Linked DNA regions of Homo sapiens. The protein of the gene in region 1 binds, or shares a complex with, the protein of each later gene. Each region holds a gene or a part of one and is shown in the gene's direction. Other genes may lie near its edges.

The links.
Region 2: the proteins of TIMM22 (region 1) and TIMM9 are in contact, whole or in part, in a cryo-EM structure (PDB 7CGP), measured with the Homo sapiens proteins. Residues at the interface, in NP_037469.2 of Homo sapiens: Asp35 (codon at 5,519), Arg37 (codon at 5,525), Gln38 (codon at 5,528), Pro39 (codon at 5,531), Arg40 (codon at 5,534), Leu42 (codon at 5,540), Gly45 (codon at 5,549), Ser46 (codon at 5,552), Leu47 (codon at 5,555), Gly49 (codon at 5,561), Ile50 (codon at 5,564), Ser52 (codon at 5,570), Pro53 (codon at 5,573), Lys60 (codon at 5,594); in NP_001291414.1 of Homo sapiens: Gln13, Glu16, Phe17, Thr20, Leu57, Thr60, Gln61, Met65, Phe67, His71, Gln74, Asn75, Leu78, Lys81.
Region 3: TIMM22 (region 1) and TIMM29 share a complex: the UniProt entries of both Homo sapiens proteins name them as parts of the TIM22 complex.
Region 4: TIMM22 (region 1) and TIMM10B share a complex: the UniProt entries of both Homo sapiens proteins name them as parts of the TIM22 complex.

The regions. Positions count from the first base shown.
Region 1 is NC_000017.11:991,727-1,001,390, forward strand, and holds the start of TIMM22 (mitochondrial import inner membrane translocase subunit Tim22), read left to right. Parts: upstream 1-5,402; 5' UTR 5,403-5,416; coding exon 5,417-5,654; intron 5,655-7,052; coding exon 7,053-7,249; intron 7,250-7,785; coding exon 7,786-7,858; intron 7,859-9,285; coding exon 9,286-9,362; 3' UTR 9,363-9,664. UniProt on the Homo sapiens protein: Essential core component of the TIM22 complex, a complex that mediates the import and insertion of multi-pass transmembrane proteins into the mitochondrial inner membrane. In the TIM22 complex, it constitutes the voltage-activated and signal-gated channel.
Region 2 is NC_000014.9:58,407,995-58,410,531, reverse strand, and holds the end of TIMM9 (mitochondrial import inner membrane translocase subunit Tim9), read left to right. Parts: intron 1-1,363; coding exon 1,364-1,498; 3' UTR 1,499-1,949; coding exon of another isoform or gene 1,950-2,003; 3' UTR 2,004-2,037; downstream 2,038-2,537. Other genes in the region: TOMM20L (TOMM20-like protein 1), read right to left, coding at 1,950-2,003. UniProt on the Homo sapiens protein: Mitochondrial intermembrane chaperone that participates in the import and insertion of multi-pass transmembrane proteins into the mitochondrial inner membrane.
Region 3 is NC_000019.10:10,921,743-10,930,754, forward strand, and holds TIMM29 (mitochondrial import inner membrane translocase subunit Tim29), read left to right. Parts: upstream 1-7,068; 5' UTR 7,069-7,080; coding exon 7,081-7,174; intron 7,175-7,271; coding exon 7,272-7,960; 3' UTR 7,961-8,512; downstream 8,513-9,012. Other genes in the region: histone-arginine methyltransferase CARM1, read left to right, coding at 1-15; protein YIPF2, read right to left, coding at 1,549-1,665, 1,753-1,935, 2,091-2,257, 2,334-2,450, 3,944-4,031, 5,888-5,974, 6,057-6,217, 6,638-6,668. UniProt on the Homo sapiens protein: Component of the TIM22 complex, a complex that mediates the import and insertion of multi-pass transmembrane proteins into the mitochondrial inner membrane.
Region 4 is NC_000011.10:6,476,564-6,485,814, forward strand, and holds TIMM10B (mitochondrial import inner membrane translocase subunit Tim10 B), read left to right. Parts: upstream 1-4,937; 5' UTR 4,938-4,953; coding exon 4,954-4,992; intron 4,993-5,193; coding exon 5,194-5,289; intron 5,290-5,481; coding exon 5,482-5,658; 3' UTR 5,659-8,118; downstream 8,119-9,251. Other genes in the region: ARFIP2 (arfaptin-2), read right to left, coding at 550-705, 1,155-1,329, 1,478-1,635, 2,175-2,396, 2,577-2,794, 3,409-3,505, 3,760-3,858. UniProt on the Homo sapiens protein: Component of the TIM22 complex, a complex that mediates the import and insertion of multi-pass transmembrane proteins into the mitochondrial inner membrane.

The DNA.
Region 1 (9,664 bases):
ACAGAGTAAGAACCAGTTTCTGTAAAAAAGGTTTTTAAAAGTTAGCCCGGGGCACGGTGGCTCACACCTGTAACCCCAGCACTTTAGGAGGCTGAGGTGGGAGGATTGCTTGAGCCCAGGAGTTTGAGACCAGTCTGGGCAACAGAGTAAGAACCAGTTTCTATAAAAAAGGTTTTTAAAAGTTAGCCCGGGGCACGGTGGCTCACACCTGTAATCCCAGCACTTTGGGAGGCTGAGGTGGGCGGATCACGAGGTCAGGAGATCGAGACCATCCTGGCTAACACGGTGAAACCCCGTCTCTACTAAAAACACAAAAAATTAGCTGGGCGTGGTGGCGGGCGCCTGTAGTCCCAGCTACTCGGGAGGCTGAGGCAGGAGAATGGCGTGAACCCAGGAGGCGGAGCTTGCACTGAGCCGAGATCACACCACTGCACTCCAGCCTGGGCAACAGAGCAAGACTCCATCTCAAAAAAAAAAAACATTAGCCCATTACCCCGGCATGGTGGTACATGCCCATGGTCCCAGCTACTTGGCAGGGTCGAGGTAGGAGGATCCCTTGAGCCCAGGAGATCGAGGCTGCAGTGAGCCATGATGGGGCCACTGCACTCCAGTTTGGGCCACAAAGAAAGACCCTGTCTCAAAAAGAAAAAAAGAGGCTCAGAGAAGACATTACTTCCAATTAGATTAATCAGAAAAGGTAAGTTTTGAAGGGCAGGAATATTTAAAGACAGAGCTGAGGGGCATGAGTGGAGTGTTGTGAGAAGAAAAAAGAATTACTAGCAAAAGTTCACAAGGGTCTGAGTGTGGCAGCTCACATCTGTAATCCCAGCACTTTGGGAGGCCAAGGCGGGCAGATCACTTGAGGTCAGGAGTTCAAGAGCAGCCTGGCCAACATGGTGAAACTCCGTCTCTACTAAAAATACAAAAAAATTAGCTGGGCGTGGTGGCTCACGCCTGTAGCTGGGGTCAGGAGGCTGAGGCAGGAGAATCACTTAAAGCTGGGTAATGGAGGTTGCAGTGAGCTGAGATCGCACCATTGCACACCAGCCTGGGCGACAGAGCGAGACTCCATCTCAGAAAAAAGAAAAAAAAAATGTGGTCCCCAACCAGCAGTAGCATCACCTGGGAAATCCAAAATTTCACACCCACCTCAGACCTTTCTGAGTCAGAAACTAACTCTGCGCTCAGCAGCTTAACCACCTGGTTCTCAGTGATGGTTTAGGACAGCCTCACGGACCTCCAGTAAGCCCAGCCCCTCACCAGGCCAATACTCTATGAAGATGAACAGATGATGCTATTACGTGCCCTTCACTGTGGAGACAGAAGGGAGGGACCGACGGTGCTCAGGGCTGGGCCTGGAGGACCCCATCCGGAGCCTGGAGTGCTCTTTATCACCGGCTGCCCGTGGGAACCCACGACTCACGGCTGGAGGCCCCACGCCCCCTGCCTTGTTTCCATCTGCTGCAGCCAGCGACGTCAAGCCTTATTCCATCTGTCAGACCAGGCCAGACGATAAATGTCCTCTTGTGGGGAAAGTGATTCAGAGAGAAAAGCTAAGAGCCACTCCACCCTCACATAATCCACCTCACATAATCCACCCTCACATAATCCACCCTCACATAATCCACCTCACATAATCCACCTCACATAATCCACCCTCACATAATCCACCCCTCACATAATCCACCTCACATAATCCACCCACACTCACATAATCCACCTCACATAATCCACCCTCACATAATCCACCCTCACATAATCCACCTCACATAATCCACCCTCACATAATCCACCCTCACATAATCCACCCTCACATAATCCACCTCACATAATCCACCCTCACATAATCCACCCTCACATAATCCACTCTCACATAATCCGCCTCACATAATCCACCCTCAAATAATCCACCCTCGCATAATCCACACTCACATAATCCACCTCACATAATCCACCTCGCATAATCCACCTCGCATAATCCACCCACCCTCACATAATCCACCTCGCATAATCCACCCTCACATAATCCACCCTCACATAATCCACACTCACATAATCCACCTCACATAATCCACCTCACATAATCCACCTCACATAATCCACCCTCACATAATCCACCTCACATAATCCACCCTCACATAATCCACCTCACATAATCCACCCCTCACATAATCCACCTCACATAATCCACCTCACATAATCCACCCCTCACATAACCCACCCTCACATAATCCACCTCACATAATCCGCCCTCACATAATCCACCCTCACATAATCCACCCTCACGTAATCCACCTCACATAATCCACCTCGCATAATCCACCCACCCTCACATAATCCACACTCACATAATCCACCTCACATAATCCACCTCACATAATCCACCCTCACATAATCCACCTCACATAATCCACCCTCACATAATCCACCTCACATAATCCACCCTCACATAATTCACCCTCACATAATCCACCTCACATAATCCACCCTCACATAATCCACCCTCACATAATCCACCCTCACATAATCCACCCTCACATAATCCACCCACATTCACATAATCCACCTCACATAATCCACCTCACATAATCCACCCTCACATAATCCACCCCTCACATAATCCACCCTCACATAATCCACCTCACATAATCCACCCTCACATAAGACTGTGCAGCTGTCTGGTCTCCATTTCTGCCGGGTGGGGTATTCCATCCTCATCTCGGGCAACATGTCCCAAAAGTATGGTTTCCAGTATGGCTCCTTAGGTCCCACCCATTTCTTCTCTGGGACCCCAAAGACCCAACCCCCACCTTTTTTTTCTTTTTTTTGACACGGAGTCTCCGTCTGTCTCCAGGCCGGAGTACAGTGGCACCATCTCGGCTCACTGCAAGCTCCGCCTCGTGGGTTCAAGCGATTCTGCTGCCTCAGCCTCCTGAGTAGCTGGGACTACAGGGGTGCAGCCACTATGCCTAGCTAATTTTTGTATTTTTAGCAGAGACAGGGTTTCATCATGTTGGCCAGGATGGTCTCGATCTCTTGACCTTGCTTCAGCCTCCCAAAGTGCTGAGATTACAGGTGTGAGCCACCGCGCCCAGCCAAGACCCTTAAAAGAAGGACACTTCACTTCCTCTTACAACTCAGACATACCTGTGAGGCTCCTGGGCTATGGAACACCCCAGCCCTTTCGCAGCCCTTGATGGAAATTGTTTTTCAGCCCTCTGAATAAAATGACCACTGTTTACTTAATCTTTTTTTTTTCTTTTTTTTGAGACAGGGTCTCGTTCCCTCGTCCATGCTGGAGTGCAGTGGCACGATCATGACTCACTGCAGTCTCAACTTCCCAGACTCAAGCAATTTTCCTGCCTCAGCCTCCCAAAGTGCTGGGATTACAGGTGTGAGCCACCATGCCCAGCAGAGGAATCTTTTCCGATCAACATCTTCTGAGAGTCCCTGGCCCAAGTAGGCAGATGCTTGCTACGGCACTGCCTTCAGGCCATTAGCAAAAAGTGTGCTTAAATGCCCAGAGGTGTTCCCAGGCCACGTTTTGTTCATACGAGGAGTACAAAATGATGCCAAAGTGTTAGCATTCTTGGGACTGAAAACCTCTCTCCAACATCCCCTAGGATTTTCCTGGATATGACCAGAAATCCATTCCCAATTTCTCTGCCTCCAGGCCCCAATTCTGGTTTCCTCAAAGAGGAGGAAGTGTTCTTGGTTCCCAAAATATGCTTGCAGTGCAGTGGTATAATGGTAAATGTTTAACAACAATAACAAAAAGGCCCTAACTGGCCGGGCGCAGTGACTCACGCCTGGAATCCAAGCACTTTGGGAGGCCGAGGTGGGTGGGTCACCTGAGGTCAGGAGTTTGAGACCAGCCTGGCCAACATGGTGAAACCTTGTCTCTACTAAAAATACAAAAATTAGCCGGGCATGGTGGCATGTGCCTGTAATCCCAGCTAGTCGGGAGGCTGAGGCAGGAGAATCGCTCAAACCCGGGAGGTGCAGGTTGCAGTGAGCGGAGATTGCACCACTGCACTCCAACCTGGGTGACAGAGCAAGACTCTGTCTCAAAAGAGTAATTTTAAAAAGTAAGGCAACAAATTATCAGGAGTTTTTGAGCTGGTTGTTAAGCACAGTTATTATTAAAAATTACATTCTATACATTTATAATAAATTACACTAAAAATAGGTAATATGTGCTCAAAACTCATCCCCTCCTAAAAATTTTACTACACTGTACTCCTATCTATGCTGTTGAGGTTATTTCCATAGATTGTATCTGTGTGATAGAAACACCATGTAACCACATGCTGCTGTACGTCTTCCCAATTCTGACTGATGACCTCGCTTGGTAGTTTGAAATCAGCCATGATGGGGATATTAACACCACACAAGTCAGCAAATGCTGTCAGTTAGGATTTTTTTTTTTTTTTTTTTTTTTTTGAGACGGAGTCTTGCTCTTGTCGCCCAGGCTGGAGTGCGATGGTGCGATCTTGGCTCACTGCAACCTCCACCTCCCGGGTTTAAGAGATTCTCCTGTCTCAGCCTCCCGAGTAACTGAGATTACAGGCGCCTGCCGCCACCTGGCTAATTTTTATATTTTTAGTAGAGACGGGGTTTCCTGCTTCAGCCTCCTAAGTAGCTGAGAATACAGGCGTGCACCACCATGCCCAGCTAATTTTTTTATTTTTTATTTTTTTAATTTTTAGTAGAGATGGGGTTTCACCATGTTTGTCAGACTGGTCTCGAACTCCTGACCTCGTGATCCACCGGCCTCGGCCTCCCACAGTGCTGGATGACAGGCGTGAGCCCCCGCGCCCGGTCCGTGCATTTACAGCACAAGTTCACGCTTATCTACAAAGCATCCACCTCTCACCGCACCTTCCGGGACCACGGGATTTAACGCCTCACCGCCCGATGACAGCACGAGGTGGAAAGGGCAGCGACAATGCTCGCGCGTCCCCTCCCGGCGATCCGGAGCACGGCAGCCCCGGAGCGCGCGGCCACTCCTCGCTCCCCTCAGGAGCTCGTAAGAGCCCCGCGCGGGGCCGAGGCGCGAGAGCACGCGCAACGCTTCCTGGGAAATGTAGTTGGGTGTCGGATTAGAACTACAAATCCCGGTACTCACCGCGCTGCAGCCCCGACCGTGAGGGCGCTTTCTGGTGAATCTGAATCTCGTTTGTCTGTGACATGGGGAAAGCTGTCCAAGCCCAATTCCATTTTCACAAGAGGCTTTCTTTTTGGAAACATGATAGCGGTCTCGCTGGTGTGCGCACCAGGAGCGTTGCGGCCGCGGCTTCCTCCTGCGGCGAATCTGCCGTTGCATCACAGTGGCTAGTCTCAGGGCCCGCAACGTGACGCTTGTCGAATCTGCTGCGGGGAGAAGGACGCGAGGGTTGCTTGGGCAGCGACTGTCATGGCGGCGGCCGCCCCCAATGCCGGAGGCTCGGCCCCTGAGACAGCGGGTTCCGCCGAAGCTCCGCTGCAGTACAGCCTGCTCCTGCAGTACCTGGTGGGTGACAAGCGTCAGCCCCGGCTCCTGGAGCCTGGGAGCCTGGGCGGGATCCCAAGTCCAGCCAAGAGTGAGGAGCAGAAGATGATCGAGAAGGCGATGGAAAGCTGCGCTTTCAAGGCTGCGCTGGCCTGCGTGGGAGGTGAGGCCGGGCGATGGGACCCTTGGGAGGCTGAGGGCCTGGACGGCAGTGGGGATCTCTGCCGAGAAGACCACGCGCCTGGGAGGCGAGGGACTGCGGGCCTTGACCTTGACCACACCCTCGCCTCGTTCGTGAATCGGGCGTCACCTCTCCTGCCCCCTCAGGCCGGCTTTCCTGATGAAAATTGGGTTAGAGAATCGGTGCTGTGGTTGGGGCCTGAAAGTTATTACATGACATCCTGGCTAACACGGTGAAACCCCGTCTCTACTAAAAATACAAAAAATTAGCTGGACGTGGTGGTGGGCGCCTGTAGTCCCAGCTATTCGGGAGGTTGAGGCAGGAGAATCGCTTGAACCCAGGAGGCGGAGCTTGCAGTGAGCCGAGATGTGCCACTGCTCTCCAGCCTGGGCGACAGAGCGAGACTCCGTCTCAAAAACAACAACAAAAAGTTATTACGTGGGTGACTTCATTCATCCGTTCATTCCCTTAAATTCATTCTCTTAAATAATTCTTTCAACAAATTGTTCCTAAGCAATATCACGTGCCAGGTGAAAGAGACAAGAGCCTGGTCTTCATGGGGCCTGTATTATACTATGTGGAGAAGAATGTTGAGCAGGAACACTGCAGAGGAAGGATGCAGACATATGGAAATGCACATGCAGACGACTCTAGGGCAGCAGTTGTTTGAGGTTTGAAAAACTGAAAGACCATTGTGACTAGACAGCCCCGAGCAAGGAGAGACGAAGTCTGCACTTGTCCTTCTGTTTTTCCCTTAAGTTGAAGGGGAGGTGCCCATGATTTTATTAAACTCATATTGACCATGAGGTCATGAGAGGGCATCCATCTGGACATGTCCAGCCGGCTCAGGAAGGACAGATGTGGCAGCAGTGTGGGATTTGCCATTAGGTAGCTGTGTGGCCTTGGGAGAAGTTGCTTAACCTCTCTGAGCCTCAGTTTATAGAAAGGAGAGGCTAATAGCATCTGTCTCACTGGATTATTGTGAAGAATGAATGAGGCTGTGGCATACTGGCATGTGCTCAGTAAAGCATTACTGTGAATGTCACAGTGGCCAAGAGAGTGATTTGCAAAGTTGATAGCTGAAGTTGAGGGTGGCTGGTTTACATATGAGAGAATGTAGAGAGAATAGAGGGTTAAAGATGGAATCTTGAGAAATGTTAGGGAATGACAGGAGGAAGAAATCTTAGAGACGGAGAAGATGATGTCAGTAACATAGACCCTGGATTGCAAGTCTCCAGGCAAGTGGAGAGTTTGAGTGGCAAGAGGGGGGTGTCCTCTGCACCGGTGGTCATCCAAAAGCATGGTCCCTTCCAGGATGATCCCAATAGAGTAATGCAGAAAACATGCCAAAGACACCTTCATCTCTGTGTTTGCTTCTAGGATTTGTCTTAGGAGGTGCATTTGGGGTGTTTACCGCTGGCATCGATACCAACGTGGGCTTTGACCCTAAGGATCCTTACCGTACACCGACTGCAAAAGAAGTGCTGAAAGACATGGGGCAGAGAGGAATGTCCTATGCCAAAAATTTCGCCATTGTGGGAGCCATGTTTTCTTGTACTGAGTGTTTGATAGAATCTGTAAGTGTCTCTGCCTTCTAAGAAATCCTTGCTGGGGCCACCATTTCATTACTTTTAAAGAGAAATTGCTCTTTAAAAGTCATTTGAAAGTTGTTACTAGAAAGCAAATCAGAAGCATCAGATACATTCTAGGTTGAACTTCCATAAAATAGTCCCTGTGGCAGACTTTGTGTGTGTTTACAGTATGGGCTTGCATTATTTTTTACTTTTTGTAGGCTAGAAGTTAGCTAATGATTTTAAACGAGACTTATTGGAGAGCCCCTTGAAGAAATTTTGATTACATTCCAAATGCTGGGCTTGGTTTCAGCACTCTGGTGCCACCTGCAGGAAGCATCTATGAACGCATACTATATATATATATATATATATATATATATATATATACACGCTGTATACTTAGGAACTATATTTTCAAGAAAGATTAGGTTTCCTTTGGGTAGGGACTGAATGAGCTAACGAGCAACCCTGTGTATTCCTCCTTAATGGTCTGCCTTGGCTTGTTTCTTTGGCTCTAACGTGTACTTCCCTGCCCACAGTACCGGGGAACATCAGACTGGAAGAACAGTGTCATCAGTGGCTGCATCACGGGAGGAGCTATTGGTTTCAGAGGTTAGTAAACGGCTCTCGAATGCTTTTTCTTTGTGGCCTTGGACAACGTGCTGAGGTTGTCATTTCCAAACACACGAGTGTTCCAGGGACACTTGATCTTCTTCCCTCTGACAAATAAATCATGTTTGTTTCTGTGGTAACTCGGTTTTGGAAACTTGTAGGATCTAGATGAGGGTTTCCCATCGTTGGCACTACTGACATTTCGACCAGACGAATCTTTGTCGGGATTGGGTCTGTTTTGTGCATTCTAAGACGTTGAGCAGTATCCCTGGCCTCTACCCACGAGATGCAAGTAGCACCCCCGTCCGTTGTAACAACTTTTTTTTTTTTAAAGAGACCGAATCTCACTCTGTCGCCCAGGCTGGAGTGCAGTGGCACGATGTCAGCTCACTGCAACCTCCACCTCCTGGGTTCAAGCGATTCCCCTGCCTCAGCTTCCCAGGTAGCTGGGATTACAGGCACCCGCCACCATGCTCAGCTAATTTTTATTTTTTTAGTAGAGATCAATTTCACCTGGTCTCGAACTCCTGACCTCGTGATCTGCCTGCCTCAGCCTCCCAAAGTGCTGGGATTACAGGCATGAGCCACCACGTGTGGCCAACATTTTTCTCAGTAATTCTAGACAATTGTCTTTTAATTTTAGATATAAATTATAATGGTAATATCTTTCTGCCCTTGGGGATTCTGATTTCTACCCATTGAATGCTAAGTACAGATATTCTAGAAATATTAGATTATCAGCTGCAAAAAAAAAAAAAAAAAGAAAACCAATTTGCTGCCTCTTCTCCCCGTTGGCATGTCCATTCAGAGCGTGGTGGAGGGCCTTGGTGACTTGACTTTCCTAGAAGCAGCAGTGTTTTATCACTGGGCCACTTTCCATCTGTCATGCCCTAACTTACCCAGAGCAAAAAGCCAGTTTTCTCATCTTCTGAGAGACAGGATGATTTGCTGTCATGAAACCTGGTTTTGCTCCTCAAGCACCATTTATGATGACGGACTGACTTCTCCGCCGGTCGTCCCATTGTTCAGCTTCACCAGGGCCTCTTTGAGAAGCTCTGCTGTCTCCAGTACTGCTTTGATCACCTTCCCAGGAATGTATTCCATAAACAAATCAGGGTCAAGGCCATATGCTTTCATTTGATTCCGAGGGCTGCTTCTCTCAACCAGTTTCCTGCCTGCGAGGGGCTATTTCCCTAAGACTAGAAATACCCTTTGAAGGAGAAAAGCTAAACAAATGTAGTTAGATAAAGCGCACTGGATTAGATCATATACACTGCTTCATTGATGTCTTCCAGAGCTATGATCGTTTGAATGACTTACAGTGCTTAAGCTCATTTCATGACACTGAGGGTGTGCCAACTTTCCGTGAGTGCCTCGTGACCCAGCAGCTGTCACCACAGGTCATGTTCTTTCTGTTTGTTTGACAGCTGGCTTAAAGGCTGGGGCCATTGGTTGTGGAGGTTTTGCTGCTTTCTCTGCTGCGATTGATTATTACCTCCGGTGAGAGTAATTGCCTGCAGGGAAGGATGATGCCAGCCCCGGATCCGGGCTGCTCTCTGGAGGACAGTTTCTGTACCACACCAGGGCCTTGCTTCAGGGCCTGAAGACATTCATTTTCCCTCATGTCGTTGGTATTCTGAGGGAGCTGCCTGGCTTCTCTGCCTCCAGCCTTTGGGGTAGCCACACTTTGCTGCTCCTGGACTCCAGCCAGCCTTCACAGAGGACGTCCCGTGCCAGATTCTCTCACAGCAGATCGGGAGACAGGATGTTGACATATAGGAATTCAGCTCCACAAAGCTTCAGGCC
Region 2 (2,537 bases), on another chromosome or scaffold:
CACAGCCTTTCTGTATGGCCCTGGGAATTCTGGTTGGCTTTGGAAAAAACAAAGCTTGACTTTGGTGGCTCATATTGAAAACCTCATCCTATTAGAAGTCTTAACTATTTTTTTAAGACAGGGTCTCGCTCTGTTACCCAGGCTGGAGTGCAATGGCATAATCATAGCTCACTGTAACTTTGAACTCCCAGCACATTGGGAGGTCAAGGCAGGTGGATCACTTGAGCCCAGGAGTTCGAAACCAGCCTCGGCAACATGGTGAAACCCTGTCTTTACAAAAAATACAAAAAAAAATTAGCTAGACATGTTGGTACATGCCTGTGGTCCCAGCTACTCGGGAGCTGAGGTGAGAGGGTCACCTGAGCCCGGGAGGCAGAGGTTGCAGTGAGCTGTGATTGCACCACTGCACTCTAGCCTGGGCGACAGAGCAAGACCCTGTCAACAACAACAACAACAAAAAGCACCAGCCCTCATCTCTACTAAAAAATAAAATGAAAAATTAGCCAGGCGTGGTGGTGTGTGCCTGTAGTCTCAGCTACTCCAGGGGCTGAGGTAGGAGGATCACTTAAGCCCAGGAGGTTGAGGCCACAGTGAGGCACTGCACTCCACCCTGGGCAACAGAGAGAGAACCTGTCTCAAAAAAATAAATAAATAGGCTGGGCGCGGTGGCTCACGCCTGGAACTTCAGCACATTGGGAGGCTGAGGCAGGCGGATCACGAGGTCAGGAGATCAAGACCATCCTGGCTAACACAGTGAAACCCCGTCTCTACTAAAAATACAAAAAATTAGCCAGGCATGGTGGCAGGCACCTGTAGTCCCAGCTACTCGGGATGCTGAGGCAGGAGAATGGCGTGAACTCAGGAGGCGGAGCTTGCAGTGAGCCGAGATCACGCCACTGCACTCAAGCCTGGGTGACACAGCGAGACTCCCTCTCAAAAATAAATAAATAAATAAATAAAATTAAAATAAGTAAAAGGTTGAGAATTAAGAATGTTGTTTTCTCATTAAAAAGGAACAAACTTACTACTGGGTCTACATTTTAATAATCGAAACAAGAAGACAGGAATGTGGGCTTTCACTTAATACACTTGCAGAAAATCTAGTCCAGAAGCTTTTTGAAAACAGAGACTTATCATTGCTCTTAGTGACTACAAACTGGCAGGCATTCAATATATATTAATGCTTGTCAGTGAATGAAAGTATCAATTAAAAGCTATGGTCAGTTGCTGCCAATTAGTACTATTTAATTCTCAGATATATTCAAAGAAAAGCAAACTACCCCACTGATTCTTTTAGAATACATGCATTTTAAAAAATTCATATTTTTGTGTTGCCTCTTGGATCTTCCCTTTTCATTCCTAGACCACCTGTTCAGAACATTGCTTACAGAAATATTTAAAAATGACACAAAGAATATCCATGAGATTTCAGGAATATCATATTCAGCAGAATGAAGCCCTGGCAGCCAAAGCAGGACTCCTTGGCCAACCACGATAGAGAAGTCCTGATGGATGAACTTTTGATGAAAGATTGCCAACAGCTGCTTTATTGGAAATGAGGACTCATCTGATAGAATCCCCTGAAAGCAGTAGCCACCATGTTCAACCATCTGTCATGACTGTTTGGCAAATGGAAACCGCTGGAGAAACAAAATTGCTATTTACCAGGAATAATCACAATAGAAGGTCTTATTGTTCAGTGAAATAATAAGATGCAACATTTGTTGAGGCCTTATGATTCAGCAGCTTGGTCACTTGATTAGAAAAATAAACCATTGTTTCTTCAATTGTGACTGTTAATTTTAAAGCAACTTATGTGTTCGATCATGTATGAGATAGAAAAATTTTTATTACTCAAAGTAAAATAAATGGAAATATCACTGAGCAGTTGTTTATACTGTATGGTACCATAGTATTCTCACTGGACTGTGGATACGTTGAAATGTTTTTCAATCAGGATCATCCTCCAAGCAGTCCTGTTCATTCATGTCTGCCTCAAATTGCTGGTGAATACATAAAATAGTTACTTGCTAATCATTTCAATGCATGATCCTTTTCTTGCCTCCCTTGTGTCAGGGTGGGCATTACATATACTTTTCTTTTTTTTTTTTTTTGAGACGGAGTTTTGCTTTCGTCACCCAGGATGGAGTGCAACGGCACAATCTCAGCTCACTGCAACCTCCACCTCCCCAGTTCAAGCAATTCTGCTGCTTCAGCCTCCCAAGTAGCTGGGATTACAGGTGTGTGCCACCATGCCCGGCTAACTTTTGTATTTTTAGTAGAAATGGGGTTTCACCACATTGGCCAGGCTGGTCTCGAACTTCTGACCTCAGGTGATCCGCCTGCCTCAGCCTCCCAAAGTGCTAGGATTACAGGCGTGAGCCACCGCGCCTGGCCACATATCTTACCTACATTTTCGTATATCTTCAGGAAACAATCCCATCTGCCCTAGTTTGGGAATGTTTAAGAGTTGACTGTTATACTGTAATGGAGTTCATGTTTGTGTTTTGTTCAAAAGCTGACAGTCAAATATGATA
Region 3 (9,012 bases), on another chromosome or scaffold:
CACTACGGGAGCTAGGGGCCCGCCCCGCGGACTGACAGCACCAGGAAACCAAATGATGTCCCTGCCCGCCGCCCCCGCCGGGCGGCTTTCCCCCTTGTACTGGAGAAGCTCGAACACCCGGTCACAGCTCTCTTTGCTATGGGAACTGGGACACTTTTTTACACGATGTTGCCGCCGTCCCCACCCTAACCCCCACCTCCCGGCCCTGAGCGTGTGTCGCTGCCATATTTTACACAAAATCATGTTGTGGGAGCCCTCGTCCCCCCTCCTGCCCGCTCTACCCTGACCTGGGCTTGTCATCTGCTGGAACAGGCGCCATGGGGCCTGCCAGCCCTGCCTGCCAGGTCCCTTAGCACCTGTCCCCCTGCCTGTCTCCAGTGGGAAGGTAGCCTGGCCAGGCGGGGCCTCCCCTTCGACGACCAGGCCTCGGTCACAACGGACGTGACATGCTGCTTTTTTTAATTTTATTTTTTTATGAAAAGAACCAGTGTCAATCCGCAGACCCTCTGTGAAGCCAGGCCGGCCGGGCCGAGCCAGCAGCCCCTCTCCCTAGACTCAGAGGCGCCGCGGGGAGGGGTGGCCCCGCCGAGGCTTCAGGGGCCCCCTCCCCACCAAAGGGTTCACCTCACACTTGAATGTACAACCCACCCCACTGTCGGGAAGGCCTCCGTCCTCGGCCCCTGCCTCTTGCTGCTGTCCTGTCCCCGAGCCCCTGCAGGTCCCCCCCCGCCCCCCCACTCAAGAGTTAGAGCAGGTGGCTGCAGGCCTTGGGCCCGGAGGGAAGGCCACTGCCGGCCACTTGGGGCAGACACAGACACCTCAAGGATCTGTCACGGAAGGCGTCCTTTTTCCTTGTAGCTAACGTTAGGCCTGAGTAGCTCCCCTCCATCCTTGTAGACGCTCCAGTCCCTACTACTGTGACGGCATTTCCATCCCTCCCCTGCCCGGGAAGGGACCTTGCAGGGACCTCTCCCTCCAAAAAAAGAAAAAAAGAAAAAGAAAGAAAAAATAAATGAGGAAACGTGTTGCAGCACAGGCAGTTTTCTTCTCCTTCTGCTCCCCTGTTTCTCATACCCCCAAACTCAGATGCTGGAGCTCAGGCCCGCCGTGTGTGCACCCAGGCAGGAGCGGGCGCTGTCCAGGCTGGGCCGCCCCCTTGGCTCTCCCTCCTGTTCCAGGGGAGCCATAGGAGGGAAAGCAGGTGGCCCGGGGGGGATATGGGGGCCCCAGCCCTGTCCCAAAGCTCCCTGCTCGGCTGCCCCTCGCCCGCCTTTATATAAATTCTCTGAATCACCTTTGCATAGAAAATAAAAGTGTTTGCTTTGTAAGAAAAGTCTGGAAAGTAGCAGAATCATCTCAAGGTGTCAAAGGAGCCTTCAGTCATCGTCTGGGGGGCAGGACAGGCAGAGGGGTTGGTCCACTTAGGTGTTGCCTGAAAGAAAGAATTGTCTGGGAGTGGCCCCAGAACCTCTCGCCTTGACTGGGAGTGGGAGGGCAGCCCCCTTAGCCCAGCTGGGAATAGTCCTTACCTGTGGGACCCGGGCCTTCCTAGGAGGGGGCCAGGGACTGCGGCAAGGTAGGGGACAGCGCGATGTTTGAGGGCAGAGATGTGATTTGGGGTGGAGGAGCCACGTTCTCCGGAGGCAGCGACTGGAAGAAGTACAACTGCACAAGACCCCTGGGGTCAGAGGCAGGGCCAGCCCATGCCCCCCTAGCCCCTCGGCCCCACCTGTGGCCACCCCAGACCCGTACCTTACAGCCCATGGCCAGGAGGGCGTGGAGCAGCACGACCACGGACAGCAGCACTGTGGCCACCAGCCTGGTGTCCTCACGGACCACGGGCCAGAGGGTGAATACCAGCCCGGCGGCTGACAGGCCCAGGGCCAGCGCCCCAAAGAGCCACTGCAGCCAAGGCACAGGGATGAGCCACAGGACCTGGGAGCAACACGGCGGCAGGTGACCATGCCAGTCCCCCCAGCCACCACCCACTCTGCACCAGGCCACCCTCACCACCATGGGAATGAGGCGGCAGGTGACCATGCCAGTGTCCCCACACAGCCACCACCCACTCCGCGCCAGGCCACACTCACCACCATGGGGATGAAGACAAAGAGGGAGTAGCCGTAGATGCACACAGTCTCCAGGAAGGTGTAGGGCCCCATGCGCTCCTGGACACCCTTGCGCCACCGCAGGAAGCCCCACAGGGCCAGGGGCACCAGCCACGCATAGCAGTAGATGCTGATGCCTGCCACGGTCACTGGGGGGGGCAAGGTGAGCAGTCACCCCCTGTACCCCAGGGCCCTGCCAGGCATTGGGCCTGCCCGTCTGCTTACCCTTGTGGAACTGGGGGCTGTAGTGGATGGAGGGGTCCCTCCTCTGGGCCAGCACCAGCGTCAGGTTGCCAGTGACGGCCAGGACAAAGGCCAACGTGGCACAGATCCAGAAGGGGCCTGGGGGTAGGGGGCACAGTCAGGGTCCCGGGCCCTGCACTCCCAGGACAAGCAGACATGTATCCTGACTGAGCTGTGCTGAGACCCCAGCCTCTTCCTAAGCACCTTGCCTGACTCACCAGGACACCGGGGGCCTCCTGGTGGCTGAGCCCAGTGCTGGCTGTCAGTTCATCCCCCTCCCCGAAACACTCAGGACTGCACACCCTTGGCCTGTGTCTCACCTCATTGGTGCCAATTCCTCAACCCCTGTCACCTCCTCTTTGACTCTCTGACCCCTTCAGCCATGGGGAGCAGCCAGGCCCAGTTCTTGGCCCCTTCCATGTCTGCGTTCACCCATAGTATGACCTCCTTCAAGCCCAGGGCCTTATGCCTCCTCTAGAGCCCAGGGCTCTGCCCTGAGCACTGCAGGCTCCAGTTCAAGCTCCCGGGTGGGCATCTCCGGCTTCATCCACACCCTTGCCCTCTGCCCTCACTGCCAAGCTGGTCCCGTGGATACGTGGCAACTCTATCCATCCCGTTAGTCCAGGCAGAAATCCCTAGAGCCTGCCTCCGCTCCTAACCTCCCACTCCCCCCACCCCCACCTATCTAGCCACAAAGCCAGTCTCTTCTACTTCCCCAGCACGTTCCAGAATCCAGTGCCACTCTCCACATCCACAGTCCCCACCATGTGGCCGCCTCCACCCCAGCCTCCTGGCTTCCGCCCTCGCCACTCATGATGGCGAGAGGGACCCCGAAAACACTTAAAGATCCATTCTCGGCCAGATAACAGTGACTCACACCTGTAATTCCAGCACTTAGGAGGCCGAGGCGGGTGGATCACCTGAGGTCAGGAGTTTGAGACCAGCCTGGCTAACACGGTGAAACTCCGTCCCTAATAAAAATATAAAAATCAGCCGGGCATGGTGGCACGTGCCTGTAATCCCAGCCACTCAGGAGGCTGAAGCAGGAGAATCGCTTGAATGCGGGAGGGGAAGATTGCAGTGAGCTGAGATCACATCACTGCACTCCAGCCTGGGTGACAGAGTGAGACTCTGTCTCAAAAAAAAAAAAAAAAGATCTCTTCTTGCCACAGCATGGGAGGCTTGTGTGATCTGTCCCCTCGCCTGTGACCTCCCTGCAGCTCACTCGCTCCAGTGGTAATGCCGCCCTGCAGTTCATGCAAGTTCCTGCCATGAAGCTTACGTCGTTTCTGGAAGCCTCTTTTCCTAGGTCTCCCCCACCCCTCCTGTTGCCAACAAGGCTCATTCCCTCACCCTCCTCAGGGAGGCCTGCCCTGCTGCACCCTGCAGAACTGCAGGGCCACTCCTCCTGTCTGCTCTGCTGCTCTCTACCCGCCACCCTCTGCAGTCCTTCATGTCTCTGTCTCCCTGAACAGCAGGTAAGTCACACTGTCTGAGTGACTGATTTGTCCGCAGCTATACACTGGCATCTGCAACTCAGGCCACACTTGTTGAGTGATCCATCAAGGAACCAAATGCACAACCTCACTCACCATACAGATCCGGCCGATTCCGCAGATGGTGCCGCACAAAGTTGTGGCCAGGCCGGGGCAGCAGTGAGCCTTTGATCCGGTCCAGGACCTGGGGGCAAGGCCAAGGTCAAGGATGGAAGTCTGCCAGGAGCTTCTCCCTTGTCCTGAGAGGCTCCTTCCCTGCTGACCTCCACCCTTCTCTTTCCATGCCCCACCTGAAAGAACTCAGCCTTTCCCTCTCTTTTTTTTTTTTTTTTTTTTTGAGACAGAGTCTTGCTCTGTCGGCCAGGCTGGATGGAGTAGTGGCATGATCTCGGCTCACTGCAACCTCTGCCTCCCGAGCTCAAGCAATTCTCCTACCTCAGCCACCCGAGTAGCTGGGATTACAGGCGTGTGCCACCACGCCTGGCTAATAGTTGTATTTTTAATAGAGACGGGATTTCACCATGTTGGCCAGGCTGGTCTCGAACTCCTGACCTCAGGTAATCCACCCACCTCGGCCTCCCAAAGTACTGGGATTACAGGCGTGAGCCACCGTTCCCAGCCCCCTCTTTTTTTTCCCTCTTTTTTTTTTTGTTTTGAGACGGAGTCTCGCTCTGTCACCCAGGCTGGAGTGCAGTGGTGCCATCTCGGCTCACTGCAAGCTCCGCCTCCTGGGTTCACACCATTCTCCTGCCTCAGCCTCCCAAAGAGCAGGGACTACAGGCGCCCACCACCACCCCCGGCTAATTTTTTGTATTTTTAGTAGAGATGGGGTTTCACCGTGTTAGCCAGGATGGTCTCGATCTCCTGACCTCATGATCCTCCCACCTTGGCCTCCCAAAGTGCTGGGATTACAGGCGTGAGCCACCGCACCCGGCCTCAGCACCCCCTTTTTCTTTTTGAGACAGAGTCTCACTCTGTTCAGGCTGGAGTGCAGTGGCACGATCTTGGCTCACTACCACCTCCGCCTCCCAGGTTCAAGTGATTCTCGAGCCTCAGACTCCTGAGTAGCTGGGACTACAGGTGTGTGCCACCATGCCTGGCTAATTTTTGTATTTTTAGTAGAGATGGGGTTTCACCGCGTTGGCCAGGCTGGTCTCCAACTCCTGACCTCAAGTGATCCACCGCCTCGGCATCCCAAAGTGCTAGGATTACAGGCGCCGACCACTGCACTTGGCTAATTTTTCTATTTTATTTTATTTTTTATTTAATTTTATTTTATTTATCTTATTTTATTTTTGAGACAGAGTCTCATTCTTTTTGCCCAGGCTGGAGTGCACTGGCACGATCTTGGCTCACTGCAACCTCCGCCTGGCGGATTCAAGCGATTCTCCTGCCTCAGCCTCCAGAGTAGCTGGGATTACAGGCGCCCACCACAAAGCCCGGCTAATTTTGTTGTATTTTTAGTAGAGACGGGGTTTCACCATGTTTGGCCAGGCTGGTCTCAAACTCCTGACCTCAGGTGATCCACCCACCCAGGCCTCTCAAAGTGCTGGGATTACAGGCATGAGCCACCCCGCACCCGGCAGTTTTTGTATTTTTGGTAGAGACGGGGTTTCCCCATGTTAGCCAGGCTGGTCTTGAACTCCTCAGGTTATCTGCCCACCTCGGCCCCCTTAAGTGCTGGGATTACAGGCAGGAGCCACTGCGCCCAGTCCATCTTTGGTCTTCTGCATATGCTGTTCCCTGTGCCTGGAACATATACTCCTGCTTCCCTACCCTATTCCCCAGGGAAGCCTTCTGTCTCCTTTAGGTCTCAGCCAATTCCTCACCTCCCCCAGGAGGCCTTTCTCTAACCCACCAGATTGTGTGTGTCCCCTGTGTTCCCATAGTCCCGATCCATAACCAGTCCCACCATAACCCTTTGAGAGCACCACAGTTCGTTCACCAGCACCCACCATCACCAGCACCCTGCCCAGGGGAAGAGTGGCTGAACCCTGAGCATAACTCTGAGCCCCATCCCACCTGCCTCCCCAGCCTGACCTGTGAGGTGTCCACGTCAAAGAAGCTCTGATAGTAGCTGAAGGTCCAGAATCCCGGCTGCTGCTGCTGCTGCTGCTCCTGCAGGAGCTGCACATTGCGGGCATTCAGTGCCTGCCCGGAGAGCCTGGGTCAGCTGGGGGCTGCAAGGAGGCAGGACACAGGGACTCACCGCGGCCTTGTCACTCTCCTCCTCCACCTCATCCTCGGCTCCATAGCTGCCACCTGAGCCCACGGCCACAGCCACGTGCCCTTGTGGGGTCAGCTGATCGCTTCTGCTGGTGGTGGCTGCATCTGGGGTGTCAGCCAGAAGATTAGTGGCCTCCTCGAATTCTGTGGAGGAGGTATATGGGACACACGCACGTTTGAGGGGTGGAAAGAACTCGACTGGGCCCAAGCTAAACCGATGCTCATCTGGGGGCGGAGGCTCTGCTGAGCCATTGATCTCCCCCAAGGTGGGGCCCAACTTCCTCAGTTTGGAGGCATCCGGAGGACATCTGTTCCCTTCCTCCTAAAGTGGAACTGCAACTTAGGGTTGACGCTGGGATGGGGTCAGGGTCTGGGGACGAGAGGCTCGGGTTTGAGGTCTGAGTTCAGGGCGGGGGCGGGGTTCGAGTCAGAGATGGGTCTCACTCCTGGGTCAGGGTTCACAGCCGCCTAGGCTTCGGGGTAGAGAAATTGGAAGCCGTATCGGGGGGAGGTTCTGGCCCGGGGCGGGAGTGGGAGATCCGGCCACGTCGGGGCCGCACTCACCATGGAAGGTCAGCTCGTCGGCCGATGCCATGGTCGTTCAGGGGCGTCTCCGCATCCCTCGCTGAGGACAGAGACCGGTCAGGCACACTTCCCCCCCGCCCCCGAGCCGGTCCCTCGGCCCCCAGCCCTACCTGGCGACCAACTGCACCCACGGAGGCTTGAACTCGTCGTCCCGTCCCCACAGGTGCGCTCCGCCCCCCCTCACCTGAGGCCACCTGGGCCGGCGTGGCTGGGGCTCTCTGCGCCTGCGCGTCTCGCCTACCCGTCAGACTCCAACCGACTCAGACCTGACAGCAACATCCGGCGCCTGTCCTCTTTCTATCCTCTCCCGTTGGGAAGCCACTTCCGGTAAAGTTGGCGCTTGCGCAGAAGAGACTCCCGGGCTCTTAACGTCGGGTATCAGGAGTTTCTTCCCGGAGCAAGGACCCCCAAGACGGAAGAGGATGGCCGCGGCGGCTCTGAGGAGATTTTGGTCCCGGCGCCGCGCAGAGGCGGGCGACGCGGTAGTGGCGAAGCCGGGAGTGTGGGCGCGGCTGGGTGAGTAGCGGCGGAAGGCGGCAGGGTGGGTGGCCGCCGCGACAGGGTGGGTGGCCGCCGCGGCCGGATCACTCTTACCGCGCTCCTCTCCCCTCAGGGTCCTGGGCCCGCGCGCTGCTCCGGGACTACGCCGAGGCCTGCAGGGACGCTTCGGCGGAGGCTAGGGCCCGGCCGGGGCGCGCCGCTGTGTATGTGGGTCTGCTGGGCGGCGCGGCGGCCTGCTTCACGCTGGCGCCCAGCGAGGGTGCCTTCGAGGAGGCGCTGCTGGAGGCGTCGGGGACCCTCCTGCTGCTGGCGCCGGCCACCCGCAACCGCGAGTCCGAAGCCTTCGTGCAGAGGCTGCTCTGGCTGCGGGGCCGTGGCCGCCTGCGCTACGTCAACCTGGGGCTCTGCTCGCTGGTGTACGAGGCGCCCTTCGACGCCCAGGCCAGCCTCTACCAGGCGCGTTGCCGCTACCTGCAGCCCCGCTGGACCGACTTCCCCGGCCGGGTCCTGGACGTGGGCTTCGTGGGTCGCTGGTGGGTGCTGGGGGCCTGGATGCGCGACTGCGACATCAACGACGACGAATTCCTGCACCTGCCGGCGCATTTGCGGGTGGTCGGGCCCCAGCAGCTGCATTCCGAGACCAACGAGCGGCTCTTCGATGAGAAGTACAAGCCTGTCGTGCTCACCGACGATCAGGTGGACCAGGCGCTGTGGGAGGAGCAGGTCTTGCAGAAGGAGAAGAAGGACAGGCTCGCCCTGAGCCAGGCCCACTCGCTGGTGCAGGCGGAGGCCCCGAGATGAAACCCTGAGGCCCCCGAGTCCTGGCAAACTGCTTGCCTGGGGTGGTGCAGTTCTGAGTGTGCCTCACCTGCAGAACAGCTGAGACAGATGATGTGCAAAGTGTTTTCTCACTGGATTTGCACAAGTTTGGGGAGCCTTTCTGCCCCCCGTCTTTGTTCTTTATTAGCTGAAGCTAATTCAGAGCCACCTGGGTCCGGGAGTTGGGGACAGCAGAACGACTTGACACATGTTCATCACTGGCAGAGCTGGTCATGAGCCTTTTATATAAGCCTTTTTCATCGGGCCTCAGAGGCCCTCCTTAAGGAGGTACCACATTGGTCAGCTGACTTGCAAACTCTTCTAAGGCCACTTAGATTTTCTTTTTCAAGTTTGGGTTGTGGCCTGGCATGGTGATGTCTGTAATCCCAGCAGTTTGCAAACTGAGGCAAGAGAATCGCTTGAGGCCAGGAGTTTGAGGCCAGCTAGAGTGACATAGCAAGACTCCGATGCTACAAAAAAGAATAATAATAGTAATTAACTAAATAAAATTTGAGCTGAAATGTTTTTATTCTATGACCTATTCTCTCTCGTTTTTTTTTTTTTTTTTTTTGAGACAGGGTCTTGCTCTGTTTTGCCTGCTGGAGTGCAGTGGTGCAATCTCGGCTCACTGCAACCTCTGCCTCCCAGGTTCAAGTGATTCTCCTGCCTCAGCCTCCTCAGTAGCTGGGATTACAGGCCTGTGCCAACATGCCTGGCAAATTGTTGTATTTTTAATAGAGATGGGGTTTCACCATATTGGCCAGGCTGGTCTTGAACTCCTGACCTCAGGTGATCCACCTGCCTCGCATTTCCAAAGTGCTGGGATTATAGGAGTGAACCACCACACCTGGCCTTTCATTTTGATAAGTAACATTTTTGCCATTCCCAGCTCTTTGGAAGGCTGAGGTAGGAGGATTGCTTGAGATCAGGAGTTCAAGACCAGTTTAGGTAAAATAGTGAGAGCTTTCTCAAAAACTAAAATATTTGGAAGGGTAAAGCAGGCAAATCATTTGAGCTTAGGAGTTCAACACCAG
Region 4 (9,251 bases), on another chromosome or scaffold:
TGGGCTCTAAGCACAATTAAACTGGGTGGGTGGGTGAGGGTAGGCCTATTCAGATGCAAGGCCAGCAATGGGGCTCCCCATTATCCCCACCCCTTTGGTCCCAGTCCCCTTCTCTGCAATGGGCACGCATAGAGGAGAGACAAAGGGTATTAGACGCAACATCATTGGCCCAGGGGAGTCCGAGAAGAGCTGCCATTGGCTGACAGGGCATTTTCAGGCTCTGTCATTGGTCAGGGAGCACACCCCAGCCTGAAGAGTGATGCCATTGGCCAGGGAGTGGTTTTGTCATAGCCGTTGGCTGTGAAGTGGAAGGAAAAGATCTGGGAATGAAGCCCTGTGGCCAGGAAGATAGACAGGGCAGCAACTTCTGGGCCTCCAGGCCCTCTTCCCACCATAGCAATGTGGGCAAAACTGGTGTCAGGCCCCAGCCAGAAAAAGGAGCCCAAGCCAGAGGGCAAGTGACAAAGGATGTACCATGTCCAATCTCCCACACCCTGGGGCTGCCCTTCCCAATGTCTTTCTTGATAGCCAAGTTGGGCTGGGAGCAGCTCACTGCTCCTCTAGCCAGGAGGGTTTCTCAGCTCCTGGAGGCCGCAGCTTGATGTTGAACTGCTGCAGGGTCTGCTCCAGCTGTTTCTGGTTCCCAGCAAAGTAGGCGGACACAGCATTGTGGAAGAGCAGCAGCTGCTTGTGCATCACCTTGATCTGGGGGTCCAGCAGGGTCAGCTAAGGCTGGACTCAGGCGCCCTTCTTGAGGGTCTATGAGCCTGAGCCCAGGCACAGACCAGGGGCACAAGGACTCTGCTCTGATGGTGCTTTTGGGGTAGGGGCTGAACTCTACCCAGGGAGTCAAAGGAGAAGGGTCAGTATGATGGAAGAAACCTCACTGGATTTGTGGGCCTAGGGTTTTTGTACCCCAGCTCAGGGGGTGATTTTTCCCAGTTATGTTCCTGGGACCAGCAGCCAAATCCTCCAACAGGAAAGGGCCAGGAATTGGAGGGAGGGTGATCTGGAAAGGCCCAGGGGTTGAGGGGGTGAACACTCTACTCCCCAGCTAGGCTGCATTTCCTCATTCAATAATGGGGAGGGTCTGAGGGGAAGGTTAGTGTTACAGATGGAAAGGTGGGCTAGGGTCAAGGGGGTGGGGTTGGCACCTTGTTTTCTTCCAGGAACTTGAGCTTGATGGCCACATCTCCCCGCAGCTTCTCATACTTGTCCCGATGGGCCTGGAAAGTGGCCTGGGCACTCTCAAGTCGACCACGTGTCCCTGCATCCCGGGGGCCTAGACTCAGCTCCTCTAAGTCTGTTCGGTAGGCATCATATTCCAGCCTGGGGAGGGGGTGATAAAGGCTGGTCTCCACTCCTTTATCCTCAACACATACTCTCCTTTCCTTCCTGAATTCTTATGCCCCTAATGCCCAAATTTCCACCCATACCAGCCAACTCCCCAAACCCTAAGCCCTGCCAGTGCCCACACCTGGCAGCCTCATACTGTTTCACAGTCATGAGCGTGTCTTCCATGGTCTTGGTGACCAATGTGTTGATGCTAGAGACAAAGAAGTTCACGGCTCCTAGCAGCGTTTCCCCATTCTTGCATAGTAGTTTCTGTGTCTCTGCATTGTAGCCAAATTCCTCCTGAGGGCAGAAGGGAGGAACAGACCTTGAATAACACTCCCTACCTGACTGAAGCTGTAGAGCCCTTCATTCCCCTCCTCCCCGGGGAGGACACAGCCAGCAAAACTGGAACAACCAAGGACTGCCTCCAGCAAGGCTCTCTTAGCCGGAAAGTTAGTGGGATCACCCTGGGGATACCTGGGGTAGGAATGTGGGTGGTGGGCATTCTTGGGTAAGTTCACAAGACTGGAACAGTCTGAGAGCTAGTGTGGCAAGCAGGGGAGGGGCTCTGATTAGGCTGAGCACGAAGGCATTCTCCCCAGTGCAGAGAGGGGTTATTTGTGAGGCACCTAGTGTGCCCCCTCCCCCACCCCCTCCAACTTCTGGACCTCTGTACAAACCCTTAGGCTGCCTCCACAGGTGAGTGCTGCTGGGGGTAGGGCTGGGCCCACCCTGAAGGGGTTCTCCCTGTGGGCTGCAGGAGGGAGGGAGGATGAGGAATGACTGCCTGGGAGGGCCCATGCCCAGTTCCCCCACCCTCTTTGGTCTGGGTGAGGCACCTGAAGCTCTGGGGACTTCTGGCTGAGGTCAGCAAAGGCATCACCCAGTGCATGCTGGGTCTGCAGCAGGCTGTAGAGGTGGGCTGTCAGTGCCCGGCCCAGCTGCAGGACACTCTCATACTTGCGCTTCGTCTCACGCAGCAACTCAATCTGCAGCTCTAGCTCCAGGTCCACAGTCCGTGAGCCTCGACCAAATCGTTCTGATAACAGTTGCTTTGTGCACTGATTGGGAAATGGGGGAATAAATCAGAGACCCTAACAGCCTCCCCACACAACAGGTATCTACCCCAGCACCCCCCAGGCTCCTACTCTCAGCCACAGATGGGATATTACGATCACGAAGAAAAGGGAAAAAGGTACCCATAAGGAGTTTTGGGGAAGGGAGAGGTGCTTAAATCCTACCTTATAGGTGTTGATGCCCCATTTCTTGACGATGTCAAACTTTTCTCCAGCAATGCCCCGAGCCACCTCATCTCCAGGGCCAGAAGGAGTGGTGCTGTGAGATGGATGGCGGCCAGACCCTAAAGGATCAAGTTCTCTGACACCAGCCTCTCTCAGATACACCAGACACCTCTGTGGCCCCACCCATACTTCTCTTCGAGCACATGAAATTGACTTCCCTGAAGGAGATGCTAGAGACAACTGGATGCTCCTGCTTACTAGGAGGAACTCGGACTTTGCGCGGTGAGAACCAAATCCTGATATACATATGGCCTCCTTGGGGGTTAGAGGAGGGGTTTGCAGGGAGTTGTTGGTGTACAGGGGCAGAGGAAACAGAAGAAAATACACTGAGTTTGGGGGCAGCAGGAGTCAAGGATGGTGGGTCATGATAACAAGAAACCTGGTTGCATTCCCATGTGGAATCTTAGTGTGAGATTCAGGGCTGTTTGTTCCTCTAAACTTTAGAATCTAAAAATTCTGAGAAGCTTCACAAAGTTCCAACTCAGCCTCAAGCTGTAGAGGGGGGGCATTCCTGTGAAGCAGGTCTTAACTTGACTCAGGTGGTGGCAGGGAAAGGACAAATGAGCCATTTCAGGGGCTAAGTGGCAAAAGGGAAATGGATGGACAACGCTGGGAGTTGCTTTTGGGCTGAGGAGAGTCCATGAGGTTCCTACAAGCAGAAGTTCCCAAGATCTCCAGACATAATTCAAGCTTTCCTAGACATATCCTATGCTTCCCCAAACCATTCCTGTCCCCTCCTCCACCCAAGATTCCTGTTTCTGAACATTCATACCTGTGGGGATGAGTCCATCACCAGAGCCCCCATAGCCACCAGACACAATGCTGGTTTCATTGAGGTTGGGTCCTGACACCATCACCTGCTGGAGGTCCTATAGGCCAGAGAAGAGGGGTTGCTTCAGGAACATAGGGGCTGCAGAAGCATTTTGGAGGTGGGAACAAGTTTGGATTCAAGCATCATAAAGATAGTACACAAGGGAAGTCTGCACAGAATCAAAATGATACGTAAAAAGAATGAAGGGAGTCAGATAAGTCAGGGGAAGGCTACTGGAATGGAGGGTGAGAACCTAGGATTTATAAATTGGATTCCTAAATTGAAACAATTAGAAGAATCAAACAGAAGCACCTGCTCCAGCCCATCATCTTCAGGAAGCTGCCTGGCTTCGCCGTTCCCGTGGATAGGGATCTCCATTGTGGCTGCCTTCCCTAGGATCCCGTCCGTCATGGCTAGGAAAGGTATTGGAGTAAAACTCTCCACCCCAGCACCCTGCAAAGCCCAACACAGAAGTTCTGGACACTGGCCAGCACTCTAGAAGAAGGAGGCCTCCTCTGTCATTTCTTTAAAGGCTGTCCCAGGGTTTGAGTGTCCCAGCGTTTGGCCATCATTCCTTTCTTCAGATATATGTATTTCTCCCCTCCAAAACGCACATTTGAAACAGGCACACCAAAGCACGGTGTCTTCTCACAAGCCCCCAACCTCACCAGGACTCTGGTGATTATTTCTACACTCATTCAGCAGACATTTAGTGAGTGCCTACTATGTGTCAGGCACTATTTGTGACAATGAAAATACAACAGTGAAGAGGGAAAGTCTGCTCTCTTAGAACTTATCTCCATGCAGGCGTGTTTATGCTGAGGAGATGAACCCTTTCCAGGGCTCAGGTCTTCACCCCCCTATTCAGGTTTGTTCTCCATTGCTTGGCCTTTCACATTCCTTTAGCGTTTCTTCCCCCTTCCTTCAGGGGGTCTCCCCTCCTCCGTCTCATACACCTCGTCTTCCTCGGGCCCTCCCCACCAGGCCTTAGTTAGATCAGTGGGTGTATGTTCCCAGTCTCTGGTAAAAGCCTCTCTCTCCCAGGATATCGGTGACCCTTCCACAGTCAGTTATGTCTCCCAGGTGTGTGAGTCCCCGCCCCCACCCCCATACACCTGGACATCAGGTGTGTCCTCATCCTTCCCCGGGGCTCGGGGCATCTTGCCCTCTGGACAGGTTTGTGCGTTCAACTTCCCGTCGCCCAAGCATGTTCCTCTCACCTCGGGCCGGGCCGCTCTTCCCCTCAGGGCGCCAGGCCCGGGCCGCGCGGGGACCTCGGGCTCCAGTTCCCGTCGCGATCCTAGCAGCAGGTCAGGGACTCGGCGGAAATGACGTCCTCTCCGGGCAGAAGAAGCCGGCCACGTCGCAGATTATAAGGGCGGAGCTGACGTCGCAGCCAGGGCAGGGCGATACTCGAGCTAGCTCTCGAGATCAGCGAGAGGTTACTTCCGGGGCGGCACCGAGAAGCTGAAACGGAAGTGGCGTACGGCATGCGCCGGTGGCGTGATGGAGCGGCAGCAGCAGCAGCAACAGCAACTGCGAAACGTAAGTGAGAACTAAGTCGTTTCGAGGCCAGACGTTCAGCTCGCATTCCTGCACACATCGCGGGAACCCCACAGGGCCAGGGATTTGAGGGCTGGAAACTTCGGGCTATGGCGCGCGGGCCTGGGAAACTTTGGGCGGCGCGACCTTGACTAGAAGTGTGGGGCCCTTATCGCTGAGTTTGTGGTCCCCCTTTTCTCTCAGCTGCGTGACTTCCTGTTGGTCTACAATCGGATGACAGAACTCTGCTTCCAGCGCTGTGTGCCCAGCTTGCACCACCGAGCTCTGGACGCTGAGGAGGTGGGGAACTGTGTAGGGAGGTTACGCTGCAAGAAGAGTTTAGCGGTAGACTGCTTCCCTCCTCACCCCACTTCCCGTACCTCTGGCCCTGGCCTTCCCACGACCCTCACCCCTAGGCTGGGCATGGGGAAGAAAGGAGGCGGACCCGACAGGGCACCTTTATCCTCCACTTAAACCCTATCTTCCTTCTAGGAGGCCTGTCTGCACAGCTGTGCTGGGAAGCTGATCCATTCCAACCACCGCCTCATGGCCGCTTACGTGCAGCTCATGCCTGCCCTGGTACAGCGCCGCATCGCAGACTACGAGGCTGCCTCGGCTGTGCCAGGCGTTGCTGCTGAACAGCCTGGGGTCTCTCCATCAGGCAGCTAGCCATACCCAACCCCAGGAAGGAAGGCCTTGGATGGACCCTCAGATTGAAGGACCCGGTGGACCTTGGGGTTGGTGAATCCTAAACAGAGAGAATTCGAGGTTGCCTGAAAGCTGGGTGTCCTTGCTCCTTTTCCTGGAGCCAATATACCCAGTTTTTACTCAGTTTGATTTATATTCTGGGCAAGGAAGCTTTGCCTACTTTATTGGCACAATCCGTTGTTCTGTCGTTTAGTGCATATCTGCTGGCTTCAGCCCTGGCAGCTGAGAAATTGTTTTCTATATGTAGAAGGAAAACCTGAGCATTTGCAGGCATCTGGTTAAAGCAGGGTCTGTGTGTACAATTTTAAAACGGGTAATATGTCATGCTCTTAGTTCATCTTCACAACAAAACTATGAGTAAGCGGTATTAGCCTCACTTAACAGATGAGGAAGCAAGATTCCAGAAAGTACCAGAAGGTCATTTTATACAACAGGAGATTGGTTCCTGCCCAGATGACAGAAAATGGGAGCTCTGTCTAGTTGTCCTTAAGTCTGACTGACTTCAGTGGCTCATAACCGTGAGCCAAGTATTTGTTGGTTCATAACTGTTGTTTTGTGAACTATGTCTTACATGTCTAGAGTTCTGCTGGATCTAGGGAAAGGAGGAGCTATCGAAGTACAACGGATCAAAAAACCACAGGGCTTTTGGGCACTGCCTCCTTGGGAAGTTAGTGGCCACAGAAGAGAGATGAAACCTGTAAGAAGTCTGGAGTCTTTTGGAACTTCAGCCATTTCCCCAGGTTGTTACTTTCTTAGTATGTACAGTCTTCTCAGGATGAGCAGTAAAACCTTTGAACAAAGGTCTGTGTGGTTGTCTTCACGGGCAATCAGGAAGGGAGAGAGCTGGGGACCATATTCTGCAATGCAGCCAAATCCGAGGAAGAGAAACTGAAGGGAGAAGTAGATGGCAATGGTTATGATAAAAAGGGATAAAACTAAATCTTCGGGACTTCTTTAATGCTACGTTAATGTTTCACTGCTCGTCTAGAAACTCCTAAATCCAGCTTTCTATCATCTGCCCCACATTGGTCCCATTGAGTACATTCTGTGATTTCTAATTCCAGCCTCTCCATTCTTTTCTCATTATTGCCTCCCCCGCCCCCCAACTTTGTGTAATTTACTTCTGTATTCAGCAGCCTGGATAGCATATCATTCCATCACCCCATTTTCTTGCCACCATTGGCCATCTTTTTGTATCATTCCACTTATTCTGTCTTTTCCATTCCTTCATTCAAACTGCTAGAGAAAAACAGTTGTGTAATGAATGCCACTAAATATTCAAGGCCTCCAACCTCAGCCAAGTCCTCACACCAACACGCAGTCACACCAACACACACCTTTATGGGTTCCTGGTCCATTTCCTTCTCTAATTACCATGGCAGTTATTTTACACCTCTACTGCTGTCCTTAATCCCATACCCCACCCTCATCAGGTGACCCTGTTTCCTTTTTTAGAGAAATTGAAGCTCTTAGACATTGGTTTCCACAGTAATAATTTTAAAACTTCTTACAACTACCTACAAAGCAGATGTTCTATCCTATCTACAGAGCAGAAAATTGAAATTCTCAAGTAGCAGACCCGGTATTAAAGTGCAGATCTGACTTTAAAGTCCATGTTCATTTTACACAGCAGGCTGCCTCTTAAGATAGTATTTATTGAGCACACACTTTGTGTAGGTTCTGATTTTGGTAGATGTCATGCTTTATATTAATCTTTACAACAACTATAAGTAAGAGGTATTAACCTCACTTAACAGATGAGGAAGCAAGAATCCAGAATGTGCCAGAAGGCACATTCTGCAGATTTCGTGCAAACATTTATACACAGCTTCTTTTTTTTTTTTTTGAGACAGAGTCTCGCTCTGTCACCCAGGCTGGAGTGCAGTGGAGCGATCTAGGCTCACTGCAACCTCCGCCACCCGGGTTCAAGCAGTTCTCCTGCCTCAGCCTCTCGAGTAGCTGGGATTACAGGCATGCGCCACCACGCCCAGCTAATTTTGTTTTTGTATTTTAAGTAGAGACGGGGTTTCACTGTATTGGTCAGGCTGGTCTTGAACTCCTGACCTTGTGATCCGCCCGCCTCGGCCTCCAAAAGTGCTGGGATTACAGGTGTGAGCCACCACGGCCGGCCTATACAAAGTTTCTTATTGAGAAAAGTGGTTCCAATCATGTTTTTTGCCCCCTTTAGCTGCTATCTCTTGAACAGAAAAGTTTGTTAGGAAGGTAAAAGTTGCTGACTAGGACCTTACCCACAGGGTGGCACTCTGTCCTTGGGAAATATAAATGCAAGTAAAACAGGTTTGAACTTCTTAACTTCCAGAAGATAGGAGGATGGGACCTGTGATACTGTGCTGCTGGTGGGAGGACCCTTCCACATCAACATTTGTGTGTATCCTTGCAATAAACTTCCATTGTGAATTATCTGTGCTTCCCGTCCTTCCATGTCACACAATAGTAATTGCTAAAGAAGAGCTAGGAGCATAGATCTGTCTGATTCTAAAGCCTTTGCTCTTTGAACTTTGAGAGCTTCTATCTGTACTTAACCTGCCTCTAGGCATGAAAAAACAAATGTCCCTCAGTCTGACCCATCTCTTAATCCCTTTCTTAAAATTTCAATCTCTTGTCCTGGTTCTTTCCTGTTTATAAATATGTTCAGTGTTCAGGAGAAAAACCTTATTCCTACCACTTTACCTTCCATAATCTGGTCTTCCTCAGGTTTTACCATAAAGTGATAGCCATTGGCATAATCGGAGCAATGTGATGTTCCAAGCACAACACTAAAGAATAAATGTTGACAAGCTTTATCATGTTATCATAAATGTAAACGTTGGAGATACTTTGTTGTTCCTGCCATTGTGGCTTCAGAACTGCCCACTCCTTTGCAAAGCCTCATTCTTTTGAGGCTGTTCATCCATACAACCCTCTGATTACTTGTCTACCACTCTCATTTACTACTACTCTCCTGCTACTTTAAATAGCTAGCCCTTGGTCTTCCTGTCCACTCCTTGATATTTTAACATTTACATAGACAATTCATTTGGTGTTTTGTCTCCTAGTTATTTGGCCCAATCTCTGATGATTTCCACTCTGTCTTGGCCACTCACTCCGTTTGTCATATCTTGGCCATTATCATCACCTCAAATTGCTCCATCTTCAAAATACTTGCATCTTATTTATTGACCATATTCCTTCCACTTGGTTTATTGAACTATTCCCTCTATCATTCTCTGATTTCACTGCAGCCAATGCTTCTGCTTTCCATTAGTCCCTTCCTTCTTTAGATTCCTGTATAGCTTAAACTAGTGGTTTTCGTGCAATAGGCTGAATTTCCTTGCCTTTCATCTCTTTTTGAACCCTTAAATAAAGTGATACTTGTCTGTACCTGCATTTGGACAGCTAAATGCCACCCCAGGAAACAACTGTGGAGCAGATTTATATCACTATGAATCCATGGTTATCAGCTTCAAATGTAGTCTCAGCCCCATAGTCCTACTAGATTTTTCTAGTCATTTTAACTTTTCCCTGCAATGACTATTTCAAACCAACATTCTTAA